2 linked regions of the Homo sapiens genome follow. The protein of the gene in region 2 interacts with the protein of the main gene of each other region in a pairwise test. Each region holds a gene or a part of one and is shown on either strand. Other genes may lie near its edges. The genes, in order: SLC41A1 and SYNDIG1.

The links.
Region 1: the proteins of SYNDIG1 (region 2) and SLC41A1 interact in binary tests that used the Homo sapiens proteins (3 or more experiments, as listed by UniProt).

What each region holds. Positions count from the first base shown.
Region 1 is NC_000001.11:205,810,199-205,826,525, forward strand, and holds the start of SLC41A1 (solute carrier family 41 member 1), read right to left. Parts: upstream 3,001-16,327; 5' UTR 2,610-3,000; intron 892-2,609; exon of another isoform or gene 890-891; 5' UTR 244-889; coding exon 1-243. UniProt on the Homo sapiens protein: Na(+)/Mg(2+) ion exchanger that acts as a predominant Mg(2+) efflux system at the plasma membrane.
Region 2 is NC_000020.11:24,538,657-24,554,129, forward strand, and holds part of SYNDIG1 (synapse differentiation-inducing gene protein 1), read left to right. Parts: intron 1-4,363; 5' UTR 4,364-4,441; coding exon 4,442-4,921; intron 4,922-7,212; coding exon of another isoform or gene 7,213-7,215; exon of another isoform or gene 7,216-9,973; intron 9,974-15,473. UniProt on the Homo sapiens protein: May regulate AMPA receptor content at nascent synapses, and have a role in postsynaptic development and maturation.

The sequences.
Region 1 (16,327 bases), on a different chromosome or scaffold from region 2:
TGTGCTGACGTCGTCACTTTCGTTGCTCTGGCTCCCGTTCTCCAGCAGGGCGTCCTCCTCCCGAACCCCCTTGGCGTTGGCCCGAGACTCAATCACCACCTCTACCCCAGCCCCATCAGGCCCCAGGAACTCTGAGGTCCCAGCCAAGGGCTCTCTCCCTGGGCCATCTGAAGAGCAGGGAGAGGCAGAAGGGCCAGTCCCGTTCAGTTGGTGGACGTCCTTCGGCTCTGGCTTAGAGGACATGACAGGCACGGAGGAGGGGAAGGGAGAACTTTCCTCTCTTCTTTTTGCTTTCTCTCTTCTTCTCTAACTTGGGAAAGAACTTAGTCTTGGGGTGAACCCAGGCTTGGGCGCCGCAGGACCTCTTCCCACGGCTCTCCACTCCTACCAGGCACTGCAAAAACTGATCCACCAACAGGCAGCCCCATCAAGCACTGAAGCCGCAAGCTGGGAAGAAACAAGAAATTCCTCACCAGACAGCCACTAGGGGTGCAGATGCCTGACTCCAACCCACCAGCTCTGTGCTTGAAGAAAAAGTATCTGTCCTCTTATCTTCTTTGGTTCTCAGTGGCAGGCTCCTCAGAGCAGGGGGCATCCAGAGTAGAAGAGCTCAACCAAATTCTGGGGTGCCCTCTGAAGTGGCCCCTCTTCCGTAAAAAGCAGCTTGAGTTCAAATCTTTCAGAACACAGTGCCAGCCTGGGGCTGCGGCTCCTTCCCGCTCCTTTGGCTGGGCTCTGTCAGCTTCCCACAGCTCCTCAGGCTCTGCTGGTCCCAGCGCAGCGTCTGCCGTCTTTCCCTTCTCTTCCAGAAACTTCCTCCCTTCCTGGGAAGAGCTAATACCTCTTCAAATCCCTGGTCCTTAAAGTCACGAGAATCAGTGTGGAACACCTTATGTGGGAAGGAGAAAGAAAAGAAAAAGAACATTACACTATAGCAAAGGACAGCTTGTACTGGGAGAATTTCCCCCCAAGGAAGTTAGGAGTTCATCATATAGCTATAGAGTTTGCTATTTGCCTCCCTTTTTCCGCAAAAATTACTCAGTCCTGCACTGCTCCATCTGGAGGCTCAGCAGGAGCTATCCCCGCCATCCTCCCCACCAGCAACCCTCCTGAGGGATCACCACCGTGGTCACCAGCAATGAGATGTGACCAGCCTGGGATTGGGAAGATGCTGTGCAGAAGCCCTCTGCACTGTTTCCTCAGCAACTGGGGGTGGGTAGGTGTGTCCTCAGCAAGACCCCTTCTTGAATGCCCATTAAGAACCCTGCATTATTTAAGTGGGGTTCAGTTACAAATTCAGTCACAAACTCCCTGCCACACAGCCACCCCTGTATAAAGTGACTGCTTATCATCACAAGACAGCAACAGAAAGACAGCCACACAGGGCAAAGAAATAGGGAGAAACTGATTGCTGAGTGAAGTCCCCCAGACCCCAGATCGTTCTAGCTTCTGAGAAAACAAAACAAAGCTAGGAGGACTCCCTGGGCAGTGGGGCAAGCCTGCCAGACCAAGGCCAAGAGCCAGAGGCCTACCCACTCCTGCCCTTGAGAGTCAACAGTGTTACAAAGAGCTCAGACAGCTGACTCGGATCCAGGCCTCTGTCTCTCCCCGTCTCCCCCTGCTCTTGGCCCTGTGAGCTTGTCAGATAGGACAAGGGAGTTATCTCAGTTAGAAGGGACAGAGCATAAAACGATTGCTTATTACCCACGCATTTCAGTTAATTAGGCTCCTCCTGTTCCCCAGGGTTACTGAGAGTTGGATATAGTGGAATTCTTAGAAACAAAAACAAAAAAACAAAAGTAGCAATAAAAAAAACCCAAAACAAAAACCAAAGCACCGTAAGCCAATATGCACTTGCTCCAAATGCATCTCTTTAGCTGTAATGGCTCCACTTCTCTGCCTAAAGGAATCCCCAGGCTTCCTAATTCCTGATGGACTCCCATCCTATTCCATTTCACCAGAAGAGCTCTTATTCGTAAAAAATAAATTTAAAGAGAGTTCCACCAGGTAAGAGGAACAGGTCCTTAAGTATTCCAAACACACACAATTAGTCAAGTTCAGTTTAGGAAAGGAGGTATCAAACCCCAGGAACTGGCCCAGGAGAACTGTTTCCTCTATCAATTCAGTCACCCACCAGGACTCCCTTTTCCAATCTCCTTAAACACAGTACTGTGGTTCTTTCAAACTCCCTCACCAGAGATCCAGGAGGAAACCTCTGAGTCCAGTGCCCCTATGCCAGAAAAGTTTCTGAGTCCGCTAAAAGCTGACACCCCCGCCTCCCTCCTGTGTTCCTGGCAGGCCACTGAACCTGAGAGGGGGCTCCCAGGAGGGGAAGCCAGTCCTCCCTCACCACTCCCCCTGTAAAGAGACTTCAGACAGGCCTAAGGCCCTGGGACGAAAGAAGCAAAAGTGAACCAGGACGCCCTATCCCCTCCTCCCAGGCGGGGACAAAAAAGACCCATTTTAGTATCCCCAACCCCGAGGAGGGAGAGAAAGTAACTGGGTGGCCTCCTCAGTCTCTCCACCACTCAGATTCAGCAAATGCGCTGCGCGCCAGGACTGCCGCCCTCCACCACCCCCTCCCCGCCCCAGGACCCCACAGGACTGACCTGCCCCTCGCCTGGGAGGAAGGGGGGCGCCTGGCAAGTGGCAGCGTGGCCCGTGGTCTCGGGGGGTGCAGGGCACCCCCTCTTCTCATCACTCCTCCTCGACAGTCCTCCTTGGCCCCCGGCGTGCCCCCCCACACCCCCAGCCAAGGCGAGCGTCCAGCCGCGACACCCGGCTCGCTACATTTCGCTTCTGCGTTACAGCGAGGCCGCCGCTCCGCTTCCACGCGGGGGAGGTGGCCGGGGAGGGCAGGATATATCGCTTCGGGCCCGGCGGGGGGGCACCCGGACGGGGGACCGGGGAGCCGAGCTCACGCGCCCCCAATCGCTTCTTGCCCGCGGACTCGGGCCCAACTGGTTGGCTGCCGGTGGCAAACGTGATCTGGGGCAGACTGGGTGGCACCCCCCCCGCTCCATCAAAAATAGATTCTCGGATGGACAACAGCAGCAGCCAATCAGGGACTGGGGAGGGGGCGGGATCAACCTCGGCCCGGCCCCCTTCCTTCGCTTCGTGCCCAGGAGGCGGGGCGCCGGGGAAACGCAGTAGGAGGAGTGACGGGAACCGGGAGCCGGCTCCATGCGCCTGGAGCGCGCGGGTCCCAGCGCCCATCGGCCCGGGGTCCGAGGGGCCCGCTGCCCGGGCTCGCTGCGTGGTGCTACCGCCCCCGGGCCCGCTGCGCCGCGTCGGAGCCCCAGCAGACTTTGAGAGGCGTGTGCGACAGTGCGCGTCCTCTCCTGCCTCTGGATGTTTCCTTGGAGCCTCTGGCCTTCGGGAAGACCGGTAAACGTCCCTGTGGAGCCAGCCAGCCAGCCACCTCTGACCCCCGGGCTCAAGCAGCCAGCCGCGTGCTCCCTCCTCCCACTTGGTACCCGGACAGAACAGTCCCTACCTTGCTCTTCTCCCGCCGGCTCGTCACTTTAGGCTCCCTCCAGATTCCGCGTTCCTTGAGCAAATGGCTCACCCCTGACGAATCCGGCCTTAAAAAAGTCCCGGCCTTGAAAGGGGTGGAGACTGGCGGGCGGGAGCGAAAGGAGGTCAGACCCATGGCTGGGGTCGCACACGCATCACCTGAGGTCGGAGAGGAGGGGAGCCTCACTTCCTCTGACCCACTGAGCCTGGTGGCAGCGTGCGGAGAGATGTCACCATCCCGGACTAAATGAAATCCAACTTTCCCTGACGCACCTTGTGGGATCAAAGAGGGGTGTTCCCATGCTCACCTTTCGCCACTTCCTCCCTGGGGTATCTCCACCTCTCCAACACAAGCTCAATGCCAGTTCTCTTTGGGATGTTTTTGTGCAGGGGGTGTGACCTCCCTCATAAAGGAACCCCCACTCCCAAGTTTTCCCCTCTTGTCAGTGGAACCTGTGACCAACGGTTCCTTCCTGTCCTTTTCCTCCCTGAAAGTAGCCCGGGGGCATTCGAACATGGCTCTAGACCCCTGAATAGGGTTTGGAGCGGAGATGTGCCTGGGGAGAAGAGATCGCAGTGCTGTGTATGAAGCTTTGGGCACGTGCTCACAAGAGCACACACAGCAACCTGAGCAGGTCATTCCTTTTGATAAGGATGACAAATACACATACCAAACCCTGTTCCCCTCACCCACCCCAAACCAGTACCCCCAGGATGATTCCAGATCAGCTCTGGAGCATTTGCATCAAGGGCCTGCAGACTCACAGGACCTACTAGAGCAAAATATCAGTGTCTCAGACCCCAGTTTTGGCCTCAAATACTGGGTTTTTCTGCCAGGAGAAGTAGCTGCTAGTCTAGGAAATGCTGGGACTTGTCCAGAAAGATGAGGTTTGTGAATACGGGGTGTGGGGTTGGGTGGGGAATTAAGGCTGATGTATCTGGAGGAACTTTGGTTGGGCTGGAGGCAACTTCTGCCCTGTTCTATTCAACAGTTCCCTCCCCTCCACTACCCCATTTAATCTGGCCACAGCTCAGCTACCTGTGTATAAAATCTTGATCTCTCTCCTATTTCCTTTCTACCTTCCGTGTTTTTACTTACTCGAAAACTGTTCCCCTCTCCTGTGTGTATTTTTTTAATTGAAATATACCAGGCATTTAGGAAAGGAACACGAAACCTAAGTGTACAGGTCAACAAATGATGACACAGTGAACACCCCCATATGACCACCATCCAGATCTAGAACGAGATCATTATTGGCATCCCAGATACCCTCCTTCTATCCGCTCCTGGTGACTATGCCACACTCCTTCTCAAAAGTAACGTTTATCTAACACTACAGGTTAGTTTTGCTTACTTCTGAACTTTATATACATGGAACCATTCAGTAGGTATTATTTTGTGTCTGGCTTCTCTCACTCAATACTATGTTTATGAAACTCATCCAAAACATTGTGGTAGCAGTAGCTTATTTGTTTTCATTGCCGTACGGTATGCCATTAAATAAATATACCACAATTTATCTGTTATTCTGTTGACGGACATTTTGGTTGTTCCTACTTTGGGGTTATTATGAATAAGGCTGCGATAACGTTTTTGTTCATGTCCTTTGGTACACTTACGTTCATATTTATACTAGATATATACCTAGGAATAGAATTACTGGGTCATAAAAGGATATGCATATTTTTAGCTTTAGCAAATGCGACTAAACAATTTTTCAAAGTGCTCATATTAATTTACACTCCTGCCAGCAGCGTCTTAGTGTTCCAGTTGCTCTATATTCTCATTAACACTTGATATTGTCAATCTAGAAAAATTAAAAAATTTAGCCATTCTGGTGGGTGTATAGTGGTATTGTAGTTTAAATTTGCTTTATCCTGATAACCAATGAAGTTGACCACCTTTCCATGCATTTATTTGACCCTTGGATATCTGTTCAAGTATCATGTCCATTTTCTATTATTCTATTCCTTCTGTCTTACTACTTTTTTTTTTTTTTTTTGAGATGGTATCTTGCTCTGTTGCCTAGGCTGGAACCTCTTGGGTTCAAGTGATTCTCCTGCCTCAGTCTCCTGAGTAGCTGGGACTACAGGCACATGCCACCATGACAGGCTAATTTTTGTATTTTTGATAGAGACAGCGTTTCACCATGTTGGCCAGGCTGGTCTCTAACTCCTGACCTCAAGTGATCCGCCCGCCTTGGCCTCCCAAAGTGCTGGGATTATAGGTGTGAACCACTGAGCCCAGCCCTGTCTTACCACTTTGTAGGAGTTCTTTATGAATATCAGATACGAGTCCTTTGTTGGTTATAGGTATTGCAAATATTTCTATGAGTAAATAAATACAAAAGCCCTTGGTTTTGGTGTCTTCTGAAGTGTCAGGGCCACTGGAACAAGAATATAATCTCTATATCTATTTTGATCACTAGTGTAAACCCAGCTCCTGGCACATAGTAGGTACTTAATAAATATGTTGAATGAATGATGGATGAGGTGGATAAAGCTGATGTAGGTACTTTGCTCTGTATTGTGCTGATCCCTAGAGTCAAACACCAAGAGGACCTGGGGGAAGCAGATTTCCTCTGGCTTAGCCAGCTGTGACCTTAGGAAGAGGAAGACATCCTGGCCCTTCTCTACTGAAAGAGCAGAAATAGCTACAGTCTGTGAAATGATGAGCACAGATGTAGGGAGCGGAGGTCACAGATGAAAAGACAGGAACTACCAGCAAGTAGCAGGCCAGCCAGATACTTCAGAAGGAGAGACGCAGTTGGGGGTATCAAAAAGATAGTGAGGGTCTCTGAGCATCACTGTGGACCTTTGTATGACAAGAACCTCCAAAGGTCATGTGGACTCTCTCTTGCCTCAAGACATGCCCAGTCTTTGAGCTTGTTAGCCAAGAGAGCTCTTCCACACCTAGAAACACATTTCTTTCTCCAAAGGAGGTTCCCTGAAACTTTGGTTGGAGGGTCTTATTCCTAACCTGCATTGGGCAACTCTTTTTTTAAAATCAGCTTTAACTTCCTCATGGCCTGTAATGTCCATCCTGAATATGGAAGACCACCGAATCAGCCTCTTCTCCATGCACTGTTTTCATAGGCCTGTTGCATTCTACAGCGTTTTTCTCTTGCTGTGTTTCTCTCCAGCATCCTTGACCAGCTCTGGTCAAGAGTCTCACTGATTCCTGTTACTCTGGGAGACAGAAATTTCCCCTTGCACCACCCTAACAAACTCACAGCATCCCCTCCTCATGTCTTTCAGAACATAATGTGGCATTTAACTAGAAGCTAGTAGTAGCACCCCAAATTTTTATATAAACTGAGCTTGGGGACGCCATCTAGTTGGAGAGAGGCTGGGTGACTTGTCATGAAACATCATTTGTATAGCAAGCACAGTGTTTTCATTTAGAATATGAGCATATGTTGGGTGTGGGGTGGGAAAGAGTGTTGTGGCAAAAGGAATTGTTGATCACTCCACAGGCAGGGGCCTGTGGAGGAGCCTGTGTGGGAAGGTCCTCTGTGGGGCAGCATTCTTCAGTCTTGCTTGGCACTTGTCCTAATATGTGGTTAATTTAGCCTCTATCCTGAGGTTCTCTTAGCCCCATGGCCTTCCTTCTGGGCCAAGTACTGTCTACCAATGGCTTCTCCATAGACTACCTGAATACTCATCTTGAGACATCATAAAATTCCAGAGCCCCATAGATCCTGGACCCCCTAACCAGCATGGCTAGTTGTAAGACTAGCCTGACGTGGCTGGAAACTTTTCTATCTTTTGTTCTGTGGGGGAGGGTGCCCCCTCCCATTTTTCCCCTTGCTGTGACCCCTCCGCTGCTCCCTCCCTCCCAGAGGTCAACTTCTTTCCTGCTGCCCAGAGCTGAGGTGACATCCCCTTCCGGCTTCATTCAGTTTTAGGAGGATGTAGTGATGGGGGTGGGATAGGGAAGTGTGGCCATCTGTGCTCAGCACTGTCATCATTCCCTTTGCTTCTCTATAACTGAGCTCCCTTTCCCCAAAGCCCCCTGGATACCCACCCTGGGATTCCCTTAGGCAGGATGGTTCCAGGTATTTGGAGCTGCAGCTCTGAATTTACTGAGTATAGCTGGGAAGCCTTGACAGCAAACAAAATGGTCTGGTGAACTATAACTGGGGATAGAAAAGTAATCTTTGAGAGGCAGTGCTGCAGAGTGGAATATGCCACAGCATTGTAATCACATGGATTTGAATCCATGAATGGCTCAGCAATTCATTAGGCACATGACCTTGGGCCATGTCTATCAAATGGAGACATAATTCCCTTTCTGCAATATATGTTCCATGGTGAGCAGTTCTATGCAAACCTACCCCCAAAGTCTGAGAAAGCTCAGAGGCCAAAGAGGCTGACAAATCTGGTTTCTTGAAAGAAGCATTTAATAGGGACTTGCGAACAGAAGCCCTGTCTATATCCCGGACAGCAGTAAGACCAGGGCTTGAATACCTTATAAGGAAGGAATACCTATACCTTACAGGGAAGGAATGTGTAGGACAATTGTAGGGAAAGGCGAGAATGCTATGTGAAGTTCCCTAAGGGCAGGATTTATGGTCAGTTGTTTTAACCTAAGAGCAGGATTTATGATAAGTATATGGTCTTACCAAGGAATAGTAGATAAAATAGAAATCTTAGAGGCATTTCCAGAACTGGAGTTAATCAGAAGTCAACATGGTGGATTAGCATCCAAGATGGAGTTGCATTAGCCTTCACAGATGATGAGAGGATTAGGATAATATAGCATTTGGAACATTCCCTGCACGCAGTAGGACTGTTAAGATCTCACCAAAGAGAAACAGCCAATAAACAGGGATTAGGCACTTGGAACGGGCAGCTCAGGCTTTTTCTGGGCCTCACGTGAAATTTTAGACTTCCCAGAGTGTGAGGGCATGCCTACCTGGAAAGGGTTAATGATGGACAGTCTCTTACATAGATGCAGGTAGGAGCTAATAGGGGCAGCAACCCCACAGTGGGTCACAAGCCAAAGATGAGCAAACTTTATCTTGCAAGAGCCAGGATGCAAAAAGACTGTATCTTGCAAACCAGATTACCTAGTTTCAAACTGCCCTCTGTGTTTACTGCCTACTGCTCTAGGATTATCCTCTAGACCAGGGTTTCCTAAACTGGCCTGGTCATAGGAATCACCTGTTGGGAACTTCTTTTAAAATATAGATTTCCAGGCCTCTTTCCTGGAAATTCTGTTTCCAAACGTCTGGTGCTGGGCCAGGAAACCTACCCTTTTAAATAAGTGCCCCAGGTGACTCCCATGATCCTACTGGGTTGGGAAACTGCCCCAGTCTGGTGGTTCTCAGTCCTGGCTGCATATTAGAATCTCCTGGGGAGCTTTAACAAAAATATACCTTTGTCACAGGAGGAAACACTGTGACAAAGGTATATTTTGTCACAGGAAGGCAAGGCTCAGGAAGTCTTCAAAGACATGGAGGTGCTTTGATTGAATCTGACTGTGTGGGTTTATATGCAAACTCATTTAATCCTAATAATTACCCTAGGAGGTAGGCTGTTGCAATATATCAGGTGGAAAATGAGGTCAGTGGGTTGGAGAATGGTAAATAGATTTAAAAGTTATTTAGGTTAGTTGTTAGAGAATTGCAAATCAAAACCACAATGGGATACCACTTCATATCCAGTAGGTTGGCCATAAAAAAAAAAGAGAGAAAATAACAGAAAATGACAAGTGTTGGTGAGAGTGTGGAGAAATTGGAACCTTGTCCATTTGCTGGTGAGAATATAATGTGGTGCAGCTGCTATAGGAAACAGTTTGATGTTTCTTCAGAAGGTTAAACACAGAATTACCATATCACTGAGCAATTTCATTCCTAAGTATATGCCTAAAAGAATTGGAAATGGGAAAGAATTATTCCAGTTAGAGAGAACAGAGTGAAATGGCAGGAAGGCAAGGGAGAATTTGGCATTTTCAAGGAACAGCAGGTTCTTCAACATGTGGTTGGATGCACGTAGGGACGTGTTAAATGAAAGATGAAATGGTAGGCTTTGGTGATATGTTACAGAGCTGAAGGCTTCTTTGACATGAACGTATTGTTTTATGCTTGATCACAAAGTCCTTGAACACAGAGACTTTATATTTTAAAATTTATATTAATTTTGAAATACCTTATATTTTAAAATTTCTGTGATGTTTGCTGACACCTTGTAATTTACACATCTGGGCCTTCTTTCTCTGTCAGACCGTTACATATGGAGTCTCATTCACTTGCATAGTGTCCATTTATGATGCTCTGTTCATGATGCCCAAATATCTTTGTCTTAGACTTCTCTTCTGAGCTCTGAACTTGGATGTCTCAGCACTTCCAACTTGTGATATCCAAAATGCGCTAGTTCTCTCCCAGATGTCTATTTCTTATTCTGTCTTCTCCATCCCAGAAAAGAGGATTCCCTCGCCCATTTGTTTGTCAGCCATCTGGGAGTCATTCTTGACTCCTTCCTCTACTTCCCCGCCTCCTCGCCCACCACCCATCAATCACCATTTGCCATCCATCGACTCTACCTCCTAAATAACTTTTTTTTTGGATTTATTTATTTTTTGAGGTAAAATTCACATAACATGAATTTAACCATTTTAAAATGTACTATTCATTGGTGTTTATTATATTGATAGTGTTGAACAACCATCACTCTGTCTAGTTTTAAGACATTTTCATCACCCCAAAAAGAAATCCTGTATCCATTAGCAGTCAGTACCCACTCTCCCCTTCCCTCCCCTCCTCTCCCTGCTTAGTCAACCACTAGTCAGTTTTTGTCTCTATAGATTTCCCTATTTTGGATATGTCATATACATGGAACCATGCAATATGTAACTTTCTGCGAATGGGTTTTTTTACTTAACTTAATTTTGTTGTTGTTGTTTTATTTTTTGCCCTTAAATATTCTTCTATCCAGATGTTTTCAAGGTTCAACCACATCGTAGCATAGATCAATACTTCATTCCTTTTTATGGATAAATAATATCCCATTGTATGGATACAACACATTTTGTTTATCCATTCATCCATGGATGGACATTTGGGTTGTTTTCACCTTTTTTGATTGTGAATAGTCCTCTGTGAACATTCATATATAAGCTTCATTTGAATATCTTTTGTTTAATTTCTTTTGACCATATACCATTGTTGGGTGATATGGCAATTCTGTTTACTTTTTTTTTTTTTTGAGATGGAGTTTCACTCTTGTTGCCCAAGCTGGGGTGCAATGGTATGATCTTGGCTCACTGCAACCTCTGCCTCCTGGGTTCAGGTAATTCTCCTGCCTCAGCCTCCTGGGAGTAGCTGGGATTACAGGCATGCACCACCATGCCTGGCTAATTTTTTGTATTTTTAGTAGAGACAGGGTTTCACCATGTTAGCAAGGCTGGCCTCCAACTCCTGACCTCAGGTGATCTGCCCGCCTTGGCCTCCCAAAGTGCTGGGATTACAGGTGTGAGCCACTGTGCCTGGCCTTTTTTTTTTTTTTTTTTAACCTAGGTTGAACTTGAACTCTTGAGCTCAAGCCATCCTCCTGCCTCAGCCTCTCAAGTAGCCAGGATGACAGGTACACACCACCATGCCCAGCCTATGTTTAACTTTTTGAAGAAACACTAAACTGCTTTCGATAGCTGCTGCACCATTTTACATTCCCGCCAGCAAGGTACAAGGGTTCCAGTTTCTCCACATCCTCACCAACATTTATTATTTTACATTTTGGATTATGGCCAACCTAGTGGATGTGAAGTGGTATCCCACTGTGATTTTGATTTGCATTTCCCAAATGACTAACCTAAGTAACCTTCTAATTTGCCTACTTCATAGGGTAATTATTAGGATTAAATGATTATATATATATATACACATGCATACACACACACATGTGACTTAGAACAGTGCCTGGCATATAATAAATAATGTATAAGTATTAAAAAGAAAGTAGAAAAAGGAACAAAAGAACAGAAGGAAAGAAGGACCTCTTAGCTATACTTTCTTTCTTACTGTCCTAAGTCAAAGCCCACAATTCCACTCCTAATTTACAAGGCCCCAACTGGACTTCTTTTCTTTTCTTTTCTTTTCTTTAGCCAGAGTTTCACTCTTGTTGCCCAGGCTGGAGTGCAATGGCGCAATCTCGGCCCATCGCAACCTCCGCCTCCCGGGTAAAAGCGATTCTCCTGCCTCAGCCTCCTGAGTAGCTGGGATTACAGGCATTCGCCACCACGCCTGGCTAATTTTGTATGTTTAGTAGAGATGGGGTTTTTCCATGTTGGTCAGGCTGGTCTTCAGCTCCCGACCTCAGGTGATCCTCTGCCTTGGCCTCCCAAAGTGCCAGGATTACAGGCATGAGCCACTGTGCCTGGCCAACTCCTTTCATTTCATGAAGGTTTCAGGCTCTCATTTGCCTTATAGTCTTTGTCTACTGTATTCCCTGTCTGGCACAATTCTCTCCCTTGTCCCCCAACTCTTTGCCTAGCTAACTCACTGTTTTTTTGTTTGTTTGTTTTGTTTTTAAATTTAAGAGTTTTTTTGAGGTATAATATGCAATAAACAGCACAGATTTAAGGTGTACAATTTGATGTTTTGACATGTGTATACATCAGTAAAACATCACTACAATCAAGATAAAGAGTATATCCATGACCCCTGTGTTTCTTCCTGCTTCTTTTAATCTTTCTCTCTCAACCCATGCGTTGGGCCACCTGCCGTCTGTCACTACAGATGTTTTTCATTTCTAGAATTTCATATGAATGGAATCATGTAGTATATATCTTTTTTGTCTGATTTCTCTCATTCAGCATACTTATTCTGAGATTTATCCATGTTATGTGTATCAACAGGTTGTTCCTTTCTGCTGTTGAGTAGTGTTCCATCATATGGATGCACCTGTTTGTTTATTCATTCACCTGTTGATGGACATTTCAGTTGTTTCCAGTTTGGGGCTATTACAAATAAGGCTGCTATATGCAATGTGTGCAAGCCTTTTTAGGGGTATATATTTTCATTTGTTTTTGTTTTTCAAGTTTTGTTTTAGACTCAGGGGTACCTGTGCAGGTTTGTTAACTGGGTATACTGTGTGATGCTGACGTTTGAGGTATGAATGATCTTGTTACCCAGGTACTGAGCATAGTACTCAACAGTTAGTTTTTCGACCTTGTTCCCCTTTCCTTGCTCCCCTCCAACAGTCCCCAGTGTCTATTGTTGCCATCTTTATGTCCATGACTACCCAAACTTGTAAGTGAGCACATGTGCTATTTGGTTTTCTGTTCCTGTGTTAACTTGCTTAGGACAATGGCCTCTGGCTGCATCCATGTTGCTACAAAGGACACGATTTTGTTTTTTTTTTTTATGGCTGCATAATATTACATGGTGTATATGTACATTTTCTTTATCCAAACCACCACTGATGGGCACCTAGGTTGATTCCATGTCTTTGCTATTGTGAATAGTGGTGTGATGAACATGTGAGTGCACGCGTCTTTTTGGCAGAATGATTTGTTTTCTTTTGGATGCATATCCAGTAGTGGGATTGCTGGGTCAAATGGTAGTTCTGTTTTAAGTTCTTTGAGAAATCTCCAAACTGCTTTCCACAGTGGCTGAACTAATTTACATTCCCACAAAGAATGTGTAAGTCTTCCCTTCTCTGTAGCCTCGTCAACATCTGTTGTTTTTTGACTTTTTAATAACTGCCATTCTGGTTGGTGTGTGATGGTATCACACTGTGGTTTTGATTTGCATTTCTCTGATGATTAGTGATGTGGAGCATTTTTTTCATAAGTTTGTTGGCTGCTTGTATGTCTTCTTTTGGAGAGTGTCTGTTTATGTCTTTTGCACATTTTTTAATCGGGTTATTTGTTTTTTGCTTTTTCAATTGTTTCAGTTCCTTATAGATTCTGAATATTAGACCTTTGTTGGATGCAAAGTTTGCAAATATTTTTTCCCATTCTGTGCTTTGCCTAGCTAACTCTTACTCAACTTTGAAGTCTCAGCTTCAGTCATGACTTCCTCACCAGAGGCTTTCCTGATTTTCCAGACCAGGCACCATGTGGTATATAAAATAACACCTTATCTCTCAGACCCAGGCAAGAAAGCCCCCTGCCTCGAACTTAATGCTTTAGAAGGCATCATATAATATAACCACAAAGGAAATAAATCCATTAAAAACACAGAGATGCTTCTGTCCCTTGGGATTCTGTGCTCAGCACTGGCACAGAACAACCAGTAACACTGAACACACATTACTGAGTCTAATACAGTTCAGGCTCCGGAGGTCACTTCTTTATATATCTTGTTCTGTCTCATTTATTTAAGTTGATAGATAAACACTGTATGCATTTATTGTGTACATGATGTTTTGAAATATGTATACATTAAAAATATGGAGTGCTTCACATATTTTTGTGTTATCCTTGTGCGATTGTGTTGTTTTAATTGGAAATTTGTATTGTTCCAATTTTAGTGTATGTGCTACCTAAGCAAACACACTTTATGTCTTTAAAAAAGAAAAAGGTAACTGTGTCTGGATGCCCTGAAGGTTTGTGGGTTGTATCAGTGTGAACTTTGGAGGCCACTGTGGTTTTGGAGTATAGGCAGGAGTTGAGCTGTCAAAGTGCTTAGCTAAGAGAAAAGAAAATTAACTTGTCAAATGCTTCCTCTTAGGTAGCATGGCTGTAGTGGATTCCTTTTTTCTGAGACAGAGTCTCCCTCTATTGCCCAGGCTGGGGCGCAGTGGTGCGATCTCAGCACACTGCACACTGCACACTGCTTGAACCTCTGCCTCCCCGGTTCAAGCAATTCCCGTGCCTCAGCCTCCTGAGTAGCTGGGATTACAGGCGCATGCCACCACACCCAGCTAATTTTTGTATTTTTAGTAGAGACGGGGTTTCACCATGTTGGTCAGGCTGGTCTCAAATTCCTGACCTCAAGTGATTCACCCGCCTCAACCTCCCAAAGTGCTGGGATTACAAGCATGAGCCACTGCGCCCTGTCTGTAGTGGATTTTTTTTTTTTTTTGAGACGGAGTCTTGCTCTGCCGCCCAGGCTGGAGTGCAGTGGTCATCTCAGCTCACTGCAACCTCTGCCTCCTGGGTTCAAGCGATTCTCCTGCCTCAGCCTCCCAAGTTGCTGGAATTACAGGTGCCTGCCACCAAGCCCAGCTAATTTTTGTATTTTTAGTAGAGACGGTCTTGCCATGTTGGCGAGGCTGGTCTCAAACTCTGACCACAGGTGATCCACCTGCCTCAGCCTCCCAAAGTGCTGGGATTATAGGCGTGAGCCACTGCGCTCAGCTGTGTAGTGAATTCTTGCATGAAATACTATCTACCAGTAGTGCTCAGTGTCCATTTTCTTGCTCTGTTTTATGTTCCAGTTTCTGGTTCTGGAGGTACCCATGAATTAGTGTAGTGTTTGCAACATTGCACGTGGGAGCTAAGGAACATTTTGTAGTAATAAATAATTTATATTATCCTTAAATTTTTATATTTGTACCTCTAGATACAACATGTTAAACATGATACTGGTTCTTTTTATTGACATTAGATGGACACTGAATGCTAGAATTGCAAGTAGGTTTGTTTTTATAAAAATATTTCATTAGGCCAGGTGCAGTGGCTAACACCTGTAATCTCAGCACTTTGGGAGGCCCAAAGTGGGAGGATCACTTGAGCCCAGGAGTTTAAGACCAGTCTTAGCAACACAGTGAGACCCTATCTCTACAAAAAAATAGAAAAAAAAATAGCCAGGTGTGGTGACGTGCACCTGTGGTCCTAGCTATTCAGGAGGCTGAAATGGGAGGATCTCTTAAGCCTCGGAAGTTGAGGCTGCAGTGAGTCATGATCTTGCCACTGCACTCCATCCTGGGTGACAGAGCAAGACCCCCTCTCAAGAAACAACAACAACAAAAACCAACCGTCTTTGATTAGATTTGAATTTTCAAAAAAAAATTTAATGAAATGTTCAGCTCTCAAGTAGGAACTTTGTCTCCTATTATCTCCCTTGGATAAAAGGAATACTGGGTTTAGGATGGCCATGTTTTTAGCAACCCAGATTCACAATCAAGGGATTCCAGCCAAACTTTCTGTTCCCATTCTCTTTGCTTATGAATATTTTGTCTTCCTTCTCGCCTTAGGTAGTGAGGTGTAAAAAGCTTGAGCTAAGTCCTTGATAGGGGTGTAGGATGTACCTGTGGTTATCTGTTGGAGCTCTTTCATTGGGGGATTTGGGAAGTGGTCTAGATGGATGGGGACGGAGTGGCGGAAAGTCACCGATTTGTTGCCTCATCCCATCCAGAGTCTTTTGTTTTTTGAGATGATGGTCTCACTGTATCACTCAGGCTAGTCTCAAACTCCTGCCCTCAAGCGATCCTCCTGCCTCCACCTCCCAAAGTGCTGGGATTAAAGGCGAGAGCTACTGCGCCAAGCCCCAGCCAGTCTTGAGGCTGCTGTTGTTCCAGCCAGGCTGGGGACTTTGAACTGCTCTCTCGAGAAGCCTTCAGGGACCACTGGGCTGTAATTCATGCGTTCTCGGAGCCAGGATTTGTAGCAGTTCCCTCTCATGGGCTTCCTACCCCCTCTGGAGCTTTTTTTCTACAGCTGGAAGAGTGTAGTGAGACTAGAGGAGGAGAGGGTCTGCTGTTCACTCTTCTCCCAGTTGCTCTATGATCATTAGAGACCTGGTTGTTCCCAAACTCAGAGAAAAGGGAAAAAAGCTGAACCCAGAAGCTGGGGGTGGGGCTGGAAAGAAATGCTGGCAGACAGCGGGAGAGGTGTGAATAGGGAGAGTTCAGCCAGAGGAAT
Region 2 (15,473 bases):
ATTATTTGAGGAACTGCCATACTGTTTTCCAAAGCGACTGCACTGTTTTTCATTCCCACCAGCAGTGCACAAGGATTCCAATTTTTTCACATCCTCACCAACACTTGTTATTTTCCGTTTTTTTTTTTAACAGTAGCCATCCCAGTGAGTATGAGGTCATATCTCATATGTAGTTTTGATTTTCATTTCCCATTATTAGTGATGTTGAGCATCTTTTCCTGGGCTTATTGGCCATCTGTATATCTTCTTTGGAGAAATTTCTATTCAAGACCTTTGCCAGTTTTTGAATCAGATTATTTTTTGTTGTTGAGTTTTAACCATTCTCTATATATCTTGGGTATTAATTCCTTATTAGATATATGATTTGCAAATGTTTTCTCCCATTCTGTGGCTTACTTTCTTACTCTGTTGATATTGTCTATTGATGCACAAAAATATCTAAATTGTTATGAAGTCCAACTTGTTTTTTCTTTTGTTGCCTCTGCCTTTGGTGTCACATCCAAGAAATCATTGACAAATCCAATGTCATGAAGCTTTTGCCCTGTTTTCTTCTAAGAGTTTTATGGTTTTAGATTTTACATTTAGGTGATTGATTTATTTGGGATTGGTTTTTGAATATGGTGTTAGGTAAGGGTTCAACTTCATTCTTTTGCATGTGGATATCCAATTTTTTAGCACCATTTGTTGAAAAAAAATGTCCTTTCCCTATTGAATGGTGTTGGCACCCTTGTTAAAAATCATTTGATTGTATAAGCAAGGGTTTATTTCTGGGCTCTCTATTTTATTCACTTGGTCTATATGTGTGTATTTATGCCATATCACACTGTTTTGATTCTAGTGCCATTGTAGTAAGTCTTAAAATCAGGAGGTGTGAGTACTCCTACTTTGTTCTAAGTCCAGCCTGAGCTCCTTGAGATTCCATATGAATGTTAGAATGGGTTTTTCTGTTTCTGCAGACAACATTACTGGGATTTTGCTACTGATCGCACTGAATCTATAGATAACTTTGGGTAGTACTGACATCCTAGCAATGTTAAGGTTCCCAGTGCATGAATATGGAATGTCTTCCCATTTATTTGTGTCTTCTTTAATTTTTTTCAGCAGTGTTTTGTTTGTTTGTTTGTTTGTTTGTTTGTTTTTGAGATGGAGTCTTGCTCTGTCACCCAGGCTGGAGTCCAGTGGCACGATCTCAGCTCACTGCAACCTCTGCCTCCTGTGTTCAAGAAATTCTTCTGCCTCGGCCTCATGAGTAGCTGGGATTACAGGCGCCCACCACCACGCCCAGCTAATTTTTGTATTTTTGGTAGAAATAGGGTTTCACCATGATGTTGGCCAGGCTGGTTTCGAACTCCTGACCTCAAGTCATCCACCCACTTCAGCCTCCCAAAGTACTGAGATTACAGGCATGACCCACCATGCCCTGCCTCAGCAATGTTTTGATGACTTCTTTGTATGAGTCCTTCACCTCATTGGTTCAATTAATTCTGAAGTATTGTGTTCTTTTTGTTGCTATTGTAAATGAATTTTTAAAAAATTTCTTTTCAGATTCTTCATTGTTGGTATATAGAAATGCAGCTGATTTTTTGTGTATTAACTTTGTATCCTGCTACTTTGCTAACTTCATTTATTAGTTCTAATAGATTTTTTTGTGGAATCTTTAGGGTTTTCTATATGTGAGATCATACTTCTTCCTTTCCAATTAAGTGCCTTTTATTTCTTTTTCTTGCCTAATTTCTCTGGCTACAGTTTTTAGTACAGTGTTCAATAAAAGTGGGAAAAGTGGGCATCTTTGCCTTGTTCTTGATGTTACAGGTGCTTTCACCATTGAGTATGATGTTCACTGTGGATTTTTCAAATATAGCTTTTATTTTGTTGAGGTAATTTCTTTCTATTCCTAGTTTGTTTCATGTTTTTATCATGAAAAGGAAAAGCATCAATGCTTTTCCAGAAATGCTTAGTAGAAAGGCATTAAATTCTTTTTCTATGTCAATAGAGATAATTACGTATTTTTTGTCTTTCATTCTGTTAATGTGGTGTATTACAATGATTGATTTTCATGATTTTAACCCTCCTTGCATTCCAGAAATAAATCTCACTTGATCATGGTATATGATTCCTTTAATATGCCGCTTAATTCAGTTTAGTAGTATTTTGTTGGGAGTTTTACATCAGTGTTCATAAGGCATATGGGTCTGTAATGTTCCTATGGTGTCTTTTCTGGCTTTGGTGTCAGGGTAATGCTGACCTCATGGAATGACTTAGGAAGTGCTCACTTCTCTTCAGTTTTTTTGGAAAAGTTTGAGAAGGACTGGTATTAGTTCTTTAAATGTTTGCTACAATTCACCACTGAAGCCATTTTGTAGAAAATCTCTATCTATTGCCATAAAACCCTAAAACTCTTTGACTAAGACAGAAAAAATCAGAGCTGAAAGGGACCTGAAAACTTTCCTTGCTCAATCACCCCATTAATAGTTCCACTTTCATAAGCCACTTGCCAACAGTCAGATATTTAGTAGCAAAACTAGGGCTGAATCTCTGGCCTCGTGACTTTTAGTAAAAAGTGTTCTTTATACCGTGACAGTCTCCAAGTAAAAAAATGTATATGTGTTTATGTAGAATATAAAACTTGTATAGAATATGTTGTATACCTACTTTCTGACTTATATTTTTCTTTCACAACCCCTCAATTTTCCCACTCACCTGATATTCACCACGACTCATGGTTAGCTGTGCATGTTAGTAACTCCCCAGGAGAGTTCTTACAATAGTGTTATAGAAAGAGATTAAGAACTAGGGACTCAAATGCAAGGCCACAGAGGCCCCTCTTCATCCTGTCTCCTCCTCCAGCTGCCTTCCTCTATAAGGAAGCAGGTGGAGCATGATTGGCCAGTGATGCATTTAAGGCGGCTTCCTCTGCCAAGCTCAAAACCAGACTCCCAGTCTTATAAGATGATGACACGGGGAACTCAGTGGTTGATGCAGCCCAGAAAGTGTTTGGTCAAGAGAAGGGAGCATCCTAGACATAGCAGAGACTGCTTATGCAGAAATAAAGAGTCAGGCAGGAGGCTTTCATCTCTGTAGCTACTGGTTCTGAGTATCATCGACTGAGAAAAAAATAAATAAAAAATCCCACAAAAGTTATAAAGGGAATTGGAAGAACAGTAGCACTGTCCTGGGGCAAGACTCCGGAGTGCATTGGTACAGAGAGCCATGTGGATAACCCTAGATGGCAGCCTCATTAGAGGCATTCTCTCTCCTCCCATCAACCCAGTTTCATCTCTGAGCGGATGAACCCAGGCCCAGGGAAAGGCTCTGAGCAGGTAGGAGTGGGTACCAGCAAACGTGGAAGGAAATGAGCTAATGGGAATTATGAAGCAAAGGCAATATATATGACAAACCAGTCTGTGTTGAAAGAGATATCGAAGGATGCGGAAATGACAAAATAAAATTCCACTAATTTTGATCCCTTTCATTCATACTTAGTCATAATTTATGATACTCAAAATTGAAAAAATTCACTTCAATAAGAAAAAAAAGTTGTTCTTTTAAAAAAATAAATTGTTTGACATAATTTGAGTACATTTTAAAATTTAGTAAATAATCAGTTGTAAAATCAACTTGTTCAGCAGGCCAAAATGTGCACTGTACACTGTAGCCCAGCACCTCCTCAGCTTTAATGTGCAGACTCATCAGCTGGGATCGTGTTAAAATGCAGATTCTGATTTAGTAGGTGCAGGTGCTACTCAAGATTCTGCATTTCCAACAAGCTCCCAGCTGGTGCTGATGCTTCTGGTTCTCAGCAAATTCTGAGTGGCCAACTATAGAGAGCACCCTAGGAGACCAAGCTGTGCCTCTCTCAAGATGCCTCAGTAGCAGATTCGTGTTTGGGACTTGACACCTCAAGATCATCACTAAGTAGAGATTATTGCAATCACATAATTTCCTGCTTGAATGAACAGCCATGTACCTGGGAAGAGCTAATCGCCTTTACAGATTTGCAGTTCTGTTTTCCTATGGACTTGTCAGATGCTAATGCGATTGGGTTTACCTGTGGGTTTCAGGATGTCTGCTAGCAATCAAAGGTTCCTCTAGGCTGCAAGGGAGCCAATTCCTGCAGTCTCCTTCATTTGGAAGCAGAGACTTTATAGAGATTCAGGTAATCAATTTCTGCTAACTCTGGCTAGCCGCCCCCACAGACCCTTTTTAACATTCACTGAATAGGTAGGACTGCATTTTATCTAACTCTCACAGTTACTATGCGTTTATCAGCTGGCTGGTACAGTCTGAAACAATGTGGGTCTGGGTGATTAGCTTGTTTTCAAGTGTGATTCTCTTGTCTCATCTCTGTTTTCTCCTCCTCCAGGAGAAATGGCTTCCCTGAGGCAAGTGTAACCTACATTCCCAGCCCACCAGCCTGACGCCCAGCCAGGGAGAGAGTACCATGGATGGCATCATTGAACAGAAGAGCATGCTGGTGCACAGTAAAATCAGTGATGCTGGCAAGAGGAATGGTTTAATTAACACCAGAAACTTGATGGCCGAGAGCAGAGATGGTCTGGTGTCTGTTTACCCAGCGCCCCAGTACCAGAGCCACCGGGTGGGGGCCAGCACAGTGCCGGCCAGCCTGGACAGCAGCAGGAGTGAGCCGATGCAGCAGCTGCTGGACCCCAACACCCTGCAGCAGTCAGTGGAGTCCCGCTACCGGCCCAACATCATCCTCTATTCAGAGGGCGTGCTGCGCTCCTGGGGGGACGGTGTGGCCGCCGACTGCTGCGAGACCACCTTCATCGAGGACCGGTCGCCCACCAAAGACAGCCTCGAGTACCCGGATGGGAAGTTCATTGACCTCTCAGCTGATGACATAAAAATCCACACCCTGTCCTACGATGTGGAGGAGGAGGAGGAGTTCCAGGAGCTGGAGGTCACAGGATGTGTTTGTCAGAGGCCCTCTAAGAATGTGTGATGGGGATTCTAGGGAGGGCAGGAGCCATGAATGCCTGGCAAAAGTTAGGGAATGAAACTAGTGTGCAAAAATGCAGAAACCAAAGGCAGTCTTGGTGCCCTTCACTCTTGAGTGCTTATGGAAGATAGAAGGAGAGGAAAGACTTAGATTAACAGAAACCCAGGGGCGCTTCACCGGTGATTCTGGTATGAGATGACCCCAGGTAATGGCTGCAGATGGCAGTGCTGGTGGGTTCATCGGTTTTCCCTGCTCTCCCGCATCCCATGAGACAGAGAGGTCATTGACAAGATGAGAGAGGGACACCTGATCCTAGAGCCACATGAGGCTGGAAATATACTTGACAGGGGACACTTTGGGAGGTGCTTCTACTGTCACCTGTGGTTCCTTGACTTTGCATTCCACAGTTACTACTGAGAGATTGTTGATAGAGCTGAACCGTGCTGGAAGAAAGTGTAGGTACTGATAGCCTGAAGGGAAGATAAGTTGACTTCTTAGATGACTCGCTTCTTTAATGGACTGGAGGGCAGGTGACAGCATTTGAATTACATGCACAGAGATGTACACACTGCACGTTGGATATAGTGTGGTAGGCACAGTGGTTGCTGAGTGTGTGGCACATTGTCCCCCCAGGACAGCACCGGTGAGAGGGTGAGAGCAGCTGCTGCAGGCCATGGACTAGCGGTTTGCTGCCCATGCCTCCCAAGTCATTCCACTGCAGTGAGGCCAGGGGTGTTTTCCCAGGACGCGATGTCAGGGAAACACGTGCCAGGCTTTCCGTCAGTTTGGTGGGGAAGGAAACCGCCGAGCAGGTCCAACCTTCAGAGGCAGTGTGTGGCCAAAAGGGGAAGGGATGTCTGTTTTTCACTAAGGTAGGCGAGAACATTTTTGTAGGTGGAGAGGAAATGTTCAGAATGGAAAATTCAGGATCGTGGCCAGCAGCTGGGGAGTGGTCTTGGGGAGGCAGGAGCTGAACTCCAAGCATGTATGTGTGAGAGCTGGCCTCTCAGAAGAAGTCCACATGCTGGCCTGGGAGAGAAGAGAAGGGTGGGGTAAGGGAAAGTTTGAAGGGCTCTGGGTTGAAGAGGAAGAAAAGGAGGGGTTCGTGTTGGCTGAGCATCAGCACAGCCAGAGAAGCTCCTGGGGTGTGAGGAGATTGCAGACAGTCTAGAGCAATGAACTGGGGGAAGTGCCCATTCTAGAAAAGACTCCTGGAGAAACTGCCCAGCTGCAGTATGAGTTTGTGTGAAGATCTGGTCAGACCCAGGGCTCTGTGACTTTCTGCAGCCATGTGGGACCATCTTTAGCAGGTGAGGCTCCCTTGGCAAGGTGCACTCTGCCTGGAAGGTGGAGGAGGCAGGAGAAAGCAATAGGGAGGAAGTTTGGAGCAGAATCAGACCCACAACCATGGGACCCCACACTTGATAGAAAGGCCGGAGAAATTGCAAGGGAATGACAGGCCAAGGAGACCAGAGGATCAGGATTGGAGAGACCCCATTGAGAACCAGGAGCTGAGAGATCCAGCGTTAGTCAGGAGGGAGGATTAGAAATGGAGAGGGAAACTTTGGTGCAACTCCAGCCGGTGGAGCCCGGGAAGCCCACTGGCAGGGAGTGGAGAGTCGTGGCATGGAAGAGGACCAAGACGTGATGCCTGGGCATCTGCGCAGGCCCCAATGCCCTCTGGTGACACCTGTGAAGGGAGGGCACTCACGCTGCAGCTGTGGAAAGTTGGGAGCATGCTTGGCTTCTGTTCAGAAGCCTCTGCCCTGTCTACTAAGTTTTCCAAGATCTGAGGGCTTTGCTGACAGCAAAGCGTAAATGCTGCCCGACTCGCATGGAGTGGAATTAGAGAGGCAGATGCACGAAAATGCAGCCCCAGGAGTTATGGGAATGGAATACCCCATCAGCTCTGAAGAGGGTCTGGGGCCCTGAGCTCAATGCGGGGTTCAGAAGTCATCACACAGGCAGGAGCCCTCCCCCGGCTGAGTCTTGAGGATGAGTAAGAGGAGGCTTGAGGGGAGCTTAAATAAAAGCTAGGAATGGGTGGGGGCAGACACAGACTTGTCTGTCTTAGTAGGTCCAAGGCTCTGACAAGTAGTATAGACTTCTGGGGAGGTAACCTTTCCCACCCAGTCCTGCTTCTCTGATCTAGCAGCAGAAGTGGAAGCCCACCAGAAACAATTCTTTTAATAATACAGCAATAAGAATCTTTAGTCATAATAACGGTGCCTACTCTGTATTAATATTTCTAGTGACTTTTGAATATAACGTAAGATGGAGCATGTTGGCATTTATACTAAAGTAACATCGATGAAACAGCAAGTTGTTTACTTAGGCACTTTAGTGAGACTTTCTGGTCGGCTTCCAAGGAGCTCACCTGGACCAAGAAATGGCCCCTTCCACAGGCTCTGAGCAGAAGGAATGGAGACACATTATGGCTGCTGCTGCTTCTACATGCGGCTCAGGATGCCAAGGAGGATTTCAGAGCCTCACCACGGTGGTTAACTTCGTCCTTTTTCTCTGAAAACAAAGATTTTCTCAGAAACATTCTTACAGTATAGCTATGGTGCTTTTCATTCCCTTCTTCGGTAATTAACAAAATACTAATGACTGGTTAGAAGTGTCATTGAACATGCAGTAGCTGTTCTTTGGTTTACTGTTTTCTCCATTCCATTAAATAATAAAGGGTCATGTATTGGTTAGCATTTGCTGCATAACAAATCACCCCCAAAACACAGTGCCTTAACAACTCTTTCTTCAGCTTATGATTTCTGAGGGTCGGCAATTGAGCTGGGCTCAGCTGGGTGATTGTTCTGCTGGTCTCACCTGGGCTCACTCACTTGTCCATAGCTAGCTGTGATAGGCTGGGAAGCCAGCCTCTGGTGGGCTGTTGGCTGCAGTGACAGAGGTAACTGCATCACCCAGCTGTCACCCATCCTGTCCCAGGCTTCATTTTGCGGCAGCCAGAGAGGTGGGGCCCACTTTGTGAGGGCTTGTCAAGTCTTTGCCTGTGTCCTGCATGTTACTATCTCATTGACCAGAGCAGGTCCCACAGCCAAGCTCAGTCAGTGTGGGAGAGACTGCTTAGGGTCACAATATAGGGAAGTGATAACAAATTGGGTGCCAGTACTGCAACCACAGAGCCAAAAACCATAGACTTTTGGCATCATTTTTTTTTTCAGATGGTCTAACTGAACAGAATGACAACTACTGAAACAAAAGAACAGTGAATACTGATCTGAGCTCTTTCCAGAAGGCAGTTCTACTCAGCCAAAAAAGAAAAAAAAATGTGATTTTTAACTTCTTTGAGTATTGTATAGCTTCACTTGGTTTATAGCAAATGGATACTGTTTCCCAAATAATGCCGTTTTCAAAAAGCCATTGCCCTGGTTCAGAATGGGGCCCCCTCATTGCCCTTGTTCAGAGGGGGCCACCTCATTGCCCTTGTTCAGGGCCCCTCCCATTGCCCTGGTTCAGAGTGGGGCCTTCTCATTGTCCTGGGTCAGAGCAGGGCCCCCTCATTGCCCTGGTTCAGAGCAGGGCCCCTCGTTTCCCTGGTTCTGAGCGGGGCTCCCTTGCTGGAGCTCCTGGGCACTGGGTGGCTGGCTGTGTTTTCCCCAATCACTTTCCCAAGACAGGTGCATCCCTGGCATTTATGAAGGAGCCTCTCCAGGTCCGAAGAGGTCGGCCTGTCTGACATATGTTTGCAAGGGCATGTGGAGCGTTCAGTTTGCCTTCGAGGTTGTGGTAGTAACAAGAACAGGTTCTATGGCTAACTTTGAGAATATTTATGGGAGGTTCTCAACTATTCGGCAAGTGTTTATGATCTGTCCTGCTCCACCTTAAGTCGCCAAGTAGAGCATGGCTTGACATTAGACAGGTAGATGTAGGGGACCTCTGGGGCTTTGCGGGAGTGCAGAGGTGCCATGCCGCTCATTATCTAGTGCCACTGCGCTCAGGGTGACAAGACAGGCATCCTGTGGGGGTGCCCTCAGGGCATCCTGGGTAGTGATAATTGGGCCTGATGTCCGACAGCCCAGGCCTCTTCCCAGGTATGTGAACACTGCTTCATCCACTTCCCAGCCAGTAGCTAAAAACTGCTGTCTCTGGGAATACCAGCAGTGGGAAGCCACTTCTCCTTTCACACAAATAAACTCAGAGAGACTTCAGGGACAAGTAATGAAGTAGGTCTACAAAATATACAATTTGAGTTTACAGCCATGAAATGAAGTGGATGGAGTCCAGGTGCAGAGGCCTGACCACCCTCCTGCCCTTAGAGATGGTGACCAGATGTTGAATGGCACTTACCTGTGGCAATGCAAAACCTCTCAGACCTGAAGTACATGACGGTCACCACCTAGAAGCGGTGCCCATGGGGGCTGAGCCTTTTCTTCACTGAAGGAAGAAGGGGGAAGGGAACGCTCATCGATGGAGCACCTTTTCTGCCACGCCCTCCAAGTGCACTTGGCCATCGAATCCTCGAAGCGCTTGGGGATGGGTCATGGTGCTGTCCTCATCCTACACGTGGAGAGACAGAAACTTGGGGTGTTTCCAAGATCACACACGTGGCTCTGCTGTCAGCCCTTGGATCTGAGACAGATCTCCTGACTTTAGACTCTGTCTCCTCATGATGATGCTGTTCTTTCTACATTAGGGGGAAAAATGTGTTCCAGTAAACTTCTGTTTCAGCATTATGCCAGAGTCCAAGGACAAAGCAGGAAGAGACGGCACCAGGACTTCACTTCTGTGAACTCTCCGCCAAGCTTTCCAAGGCCTTCCAGTCTGTCTTCCCATGTAAAAACTTGAAAGCTGTTGGAGGACACAGAATTCTATAACTGCAATAGAGCACTTTACATATACCTCAGTCATAAGTATGGAAAGAGGGGCGAGGACTCAACACACATGTGAAGAAAACCCAAAAGCATGAATGAGACAGAACAACAACAAATAGAACAGTTGACCCAGAGGAAAGAGAAAGAGTTCAGAAAATAATAAACAGCATTTTGAAAATTATTTTTAGTATCTCCAGAGAGATTTGAGGTGCTGCTGATTTGGGTGGAAGGAAATTTGGGGGTTTTGTTTTGCTCATTTGTTTGTTTACCTCATAGCACTGGCCAGAACCTCAAATACATTGTTTAGTGTGAGTGAACGAACATCCTTGCCTTGCTCCTGATCTTAGGGGGAGCTTTTAGCTTTCATGATGAAAGGTGATGTTTTTGTAGTTCTTTGTAGACACTCATAATCAGGTATAGGAAGTTCCCTTTGTCACTACTTTGTTGAAGAGGTTTTTTATTTTATTTTTTATTTAATTTTATTTTTTAATAGACAAATAAATGGGATATTCATATTCATGGGGTATATAGTGATGTTTTGATACATGTAACATATGGTGATCAGATCAGGGTAATTAGCATATTCATTATCTCAAACTTTGATCATTGCTTTGTGTTGGGAGCATTCAATAACCTCCTCTTAGCTATTTGAAACTGCATAATATATTATTTTTCAACTGTTTTCATGCTACAGTGCTGTAGAACACTGGAAGTTATTCATATCTAGCTGTAATTTTGTATGTTTTAATACATCTCTTCCTATCTCTCCCTTCCTCCTACTCTGCCCACTCTCTACTATTCTTCCTTCTACTTTTACTTCTATAAAATTAACTCCTTTTAGCTTCCACGAGTGGAACATGCAATGCTTAACTTTCCCTCCTGACTTATTTCATTTAACATAATGTCCTCCAGTTTCATCCATATTTGCTGCAAATGACATAATTTCATTATTTTTTTATGGCTGAATAGTATCCTGTGGTGTTGAAATGGGAGAGTTCCCTGATTCCCCTTGCAGGACGTGGGGTGGGTGTGGTTCACCTGTTCTGTTGCTGCTCAAACCCCTTGCAGGACTGGAGCATGCAGAAGGGCAGGTGCAGAGGCTGGGGCGAGTGCTTTATGCTCTGGCCTTGCAGTAGTGTCTAGGGGTGGGTGACTGCAACCCCACTGTTACAAAGCTCTTTCAGCTTTGCTGTCCACAGACGGCTTGAATACTAACAGGCTCAATGGGCCCTTTGCCTTTTCGCAAGGACAGAGGGCTGGATCCAGAGCTGTTGCCCAGCATCCTGGAAAAATCAGGTCACATACGGGCTTGAAGGATGAATGTGAAGTTTTTTTGAGTGGTAGAGGTGGTTTTCAGTGGGATGGATGTGGAGCCGGGAAGGATACTGGAGTGGGAAGGTGATCCTCCCCTGGACTTGGGCCACCCAGTGGCTGGACTCCTCTCTGACCATCCCCAACCAAACTCCTCTCGGCATTCAGATGTTCCTCCTCTTCTCCCTTTCTCTGCCATGTTGTTCTGCCATCTGTCTATTTGCTGGTCTTCTGGCTTGCTAGTCTGCTTCTGGGTCCTGGGTTTCAGGGTTTATATGGGTGTAGGCATGCGGGCCAAAATACAACTTTTTGGGTACAAAAACAGGAATGCCTTTTCTCACTTAGGGCCACAGATATCCAGGCTTGAGGATGGGGCTTTGCCAGGAAACTGCCCTCTTCTACCCAGTATTTCCCTGATTCCTGTCCTATCAGTGTACAACTACCCCATTTTCTTTATCCATTTATCTGTTTGTTGTTGGAGACCTAGGTTAATCCCATATCTTGGATATTGCGAATAGCACTGCAACAAACGCATGGTGTAGATGTCTCTCTAATATACTGATTTCGTTTCCTTTGGATAAATGCCAAGTAGTGGGGTTGCTGGATTGTATGGTAGTTCTATTTGTGGTTTTTCTAGGGAGTTGCATATGGGTGTTCAATTCGTCAGGTACTACTTAGGTAATCATGTGTGGTGTTTCTTTGTTGTCCTTTATTTTTTCATCCTTTAATCATGTGGTATATTACGTTAACTGCTTTTTTTTTTTTTTGAGACGGAGTCTCTCTCTGTCGCCCAGGCTGGAGTGCAGTGGCGCGATCTTGGCTCACTGCAAGCTCTGCCTCCCGGGTTCACACCATTCTCCTGCCTCAGCCTCCCGAGTAGCTGGGACTACAGGCGCCCGCCACCATGCCCGGCTAATTTTTTTTGTATTTTTAGTAGATACGGGGTTTCACTGTGTTAGCCAGGATGGTCTCGATCTCCTGACCTCGTGATCTGCCCGCCTCGGCCTCCCAAAGTGCTGGGATTACAGGTGTGAGCCACTGCGCCCAGCCTACATTAACTGCTTTGCAGATAACAGACCATCCTTGCATTTGGGGGTAAATCCCACTTTGTCGTGGTTTATAATCCTCTTTAAGTGTCACTGGATCTTTTCTAATCCTTGGATAAGGATTTCTGTGCCTATATTCATGAGGGATGTTGATCTGCAGTTTTCTCTTCTTGTGCCATCTTTTCTGGGCTCTAGTATGAAGGTAATATTGGCTGCATAGAATAAGTTGGGAATTATTTCTCTCTTTATTTTCTGAAAGACTCTGTTTAGTATTGGTATGATTTCTTTTTGTTTGTTAGAACTCACCAGTGAAGGCATTTGGGCCTGGCCTTTTCTTTGTGGGAAGATTTTCAATTACTGAACTGATTCTATTACTTTACTAGTTTAAGTCTCTTGTTTTAAAGAAAATCTGAAGATCGTCCTTTATTCTTGTCCCAGTTTTAGTATTGTGACACCTAATTTGTTGGCATGAAGTTGTTCATCATATTCCATTTAAATCCTTTTACTTTCTGTATGGTTGGTAATATTTACTCTTTCATGCCTCATTTTAGTAATTTAAGTTTCTCTATTTCTTTCTTGGTCAGTCTAGATAGAAATTGATCATTTTTTGGATCTTTTCAAATAGCTGACTTCTGGTTCCATTGATTTTTCTCTCGTTATTTAGTTTTCCATTTTATTAATTTTTTACTCAGATATTTATGACATCCTGCCCTCTGTTTCCTTTGGCTTAAATTTGTTCTTTTTTACCTATTTTTTTTTTTAGGCGTGAGCTGGGATTACTTATTTGACATTTGTTTCTTCTTATAATGTATATTCAAGGCTATCACTTTCTTTCAAACACTGTTTTAACTGTGTCCTGTAAATTTTGATTTGTTGTGTTTTAATTTTTATATAGTTGAAAATACTTCTGTAGCCATTGTGATTTTTTATTTTTCTAATGAGTTATTTATTAATGTGTTGTTTAATTTCCAAATATTCAGGGATTTTGTTGTTTCCTATTATTTATTCTTAATTAAATCTCATTAAGGTTGAAGGACATAGTTTGTATAATTTCTCTTTTAAATTGATTGAGACTTGATATGTGGCTTAGTGTCTGATATGTTCTGGGGAATATGCCATGTGAACAAGGAAAGAATGAGTGTTCTGTCCTGCAAAGTGTTTTATACAGATTCGCAAGGTCGTGTGAGTTAATTCCTGTTCGTGTCTCCTGTTCTTTCTGTTTGTCTGCCTAGTTGTCACAATTAGGAGTGGAGTATCAGAAATATTTACTTTTAGGGAATTGTCTATTTCTTTCTTTTATTTTGTCAGTGTTTACTTCATGTGTTTTGGGGCTCCGTTGTTAAGAGTGTGTACATTTATAATTGTTATATCTTGCTGAACTGTTGGCCATTTTATTATAAAGCTTCTGTCACTGAAACACCAGGGGTTCCATCTAGAACCTGCTGCTCCACACACAGAAAGCCAATCACTGAGACGATTATTGCCAAGGAAGAGGGCTTTTTTAAAAAATTATTATTATACTTTAAGTTTTAGGGTACATGTGCACAATGTGCAGGTTAGTTACATATGTATACATGTGCCATGCTGGTGTGCTGCACCCATTAACTCGTCATTTAGCATTAGGTATATCACCTAATGCTATCCCTCCCCCATCCCCTCACCCCACAACAGTCCCCAGAGTGTGATGTTCCCCTTCCTGTGTCCATGTGTTCTCATTGTTCAATTCCCACCTATGAGTGAGAACATGAGATGTTTGTTTTTTTTTGTCCTTGCAATAGTTTACTGAGAATGATGATTTCCAATTTCATCCATGTCCCTACAAAGGACATGAACTCATCATTTTTTATGGCTGCATAGTATTGCATGGTGTATATGTGCCACATTTTCTTAATCCAGTCTATCATTGTTGGACATTTGGGTTGGTTCCAAGTCTTTGCTATTGTGAATAGTGCTGCAATAAACATACATATGCATGTGTCTTTATAGCAGCATGACTTATAATCCTTTGGGTATATACCCGGTAATGGGATGGCTGGGTCAAATGGTATTTCTAGTTCTAGATCCCTGAGGAATCGCCACACTGAAATCCACAATGGTTGAACTAGTTTACAGTCCCACCAACAGTGTAAAAGTGTTCCTATTTCTCCACATCCTCTCCAGCACCTATTGTTTCCTGACTTTTTAATGATTGCCATTCTAACTGGTGTGAGATGGTATCTCATTGTGGTTTTGATTTGCATTTCTCTGATGGCCAGTGATGGTGAGCATTTTTTCATGTGTTTTTTGGCTGCATAAATGTCTTCTTTTGAGAAGTGTCTGTTCATGTCCTTCGCCCACTTTTTGATGGGGTTGTTTGTTTTTTTCTTGTAAATTTGTTTGAGTTCATTGTAGATTCTGGATATTAGCCCTTTGTCAGATGAGCAGGTTGCGAAAATTTTCTCCCATTTTGTAGGTTGCCTGTTCACTCTGATGGTAGTTTCTTTTGCTGTGCAGAAGCTCTTTAGTTTAATGAGATCCCATTTGTCAATTTTGGATTTTGTTGCCATTGCTTTTGGTGTTTTAGACATGAAGTCCTTGCCCATGCCTGTGTCCTGAATGGTAATGCCTAGGTTTTCTTCTAGGGTTTTTATGGTTTTAGGTCTAACATGTAAGTCCTTAATCCATCTTGAATTAATTTTTGTATAAGGTGTAAGGAAGGGATCCAGTTTCAGCTTTCTACATATGGCTAGCCAGTTTTCCCAGCACCAGTTATTAAATAGGAAATCCTTCCCCATTGCTTGTTTTTCTCAGGTTTGTCAAAGATCAGATAGTTGTAGATATGTGGCATTATTTCTGAGGGCTCTGTTCTGTTCCATTCATCTATATCTCTGATTTGGTACCAGGACCATGCTGTTTTGGTTACTGTAGCCTTGTAGTATAGTTTGAAGTCAGGTAGTGTGATGCCTCCAGCTTTGTTCTTTGGCTTAGGATTGACTTGGCAATGCGGGCTCTTTTTTGGTTCATATGAACTTTAAAGTAGTTTTTTTCCAATTCTGTGAAGAAAGTCATTGGTAGCTTGATGGAGATGCCATTGAATCTATAAATTACCTTGGGCAGTATGGCCATTTTCACGATATTGTTTCTTCCTACCCATGAGCATGGAATGTTCTTCCATTTGTTTGTATCCTCTTTTATTTCATTGAACAGTGGTTTGTAGTTCTCCTTGAAGAGGTCCTTCACATGCCTTGTAAGTTGGATTCCTAAGTATTTTATTCTCTTTGAAGCAATTGTGAATGGGAGTTCACTCATGATTTTGCTGTTTGTCTTTTATTGGTGTATAAGAAT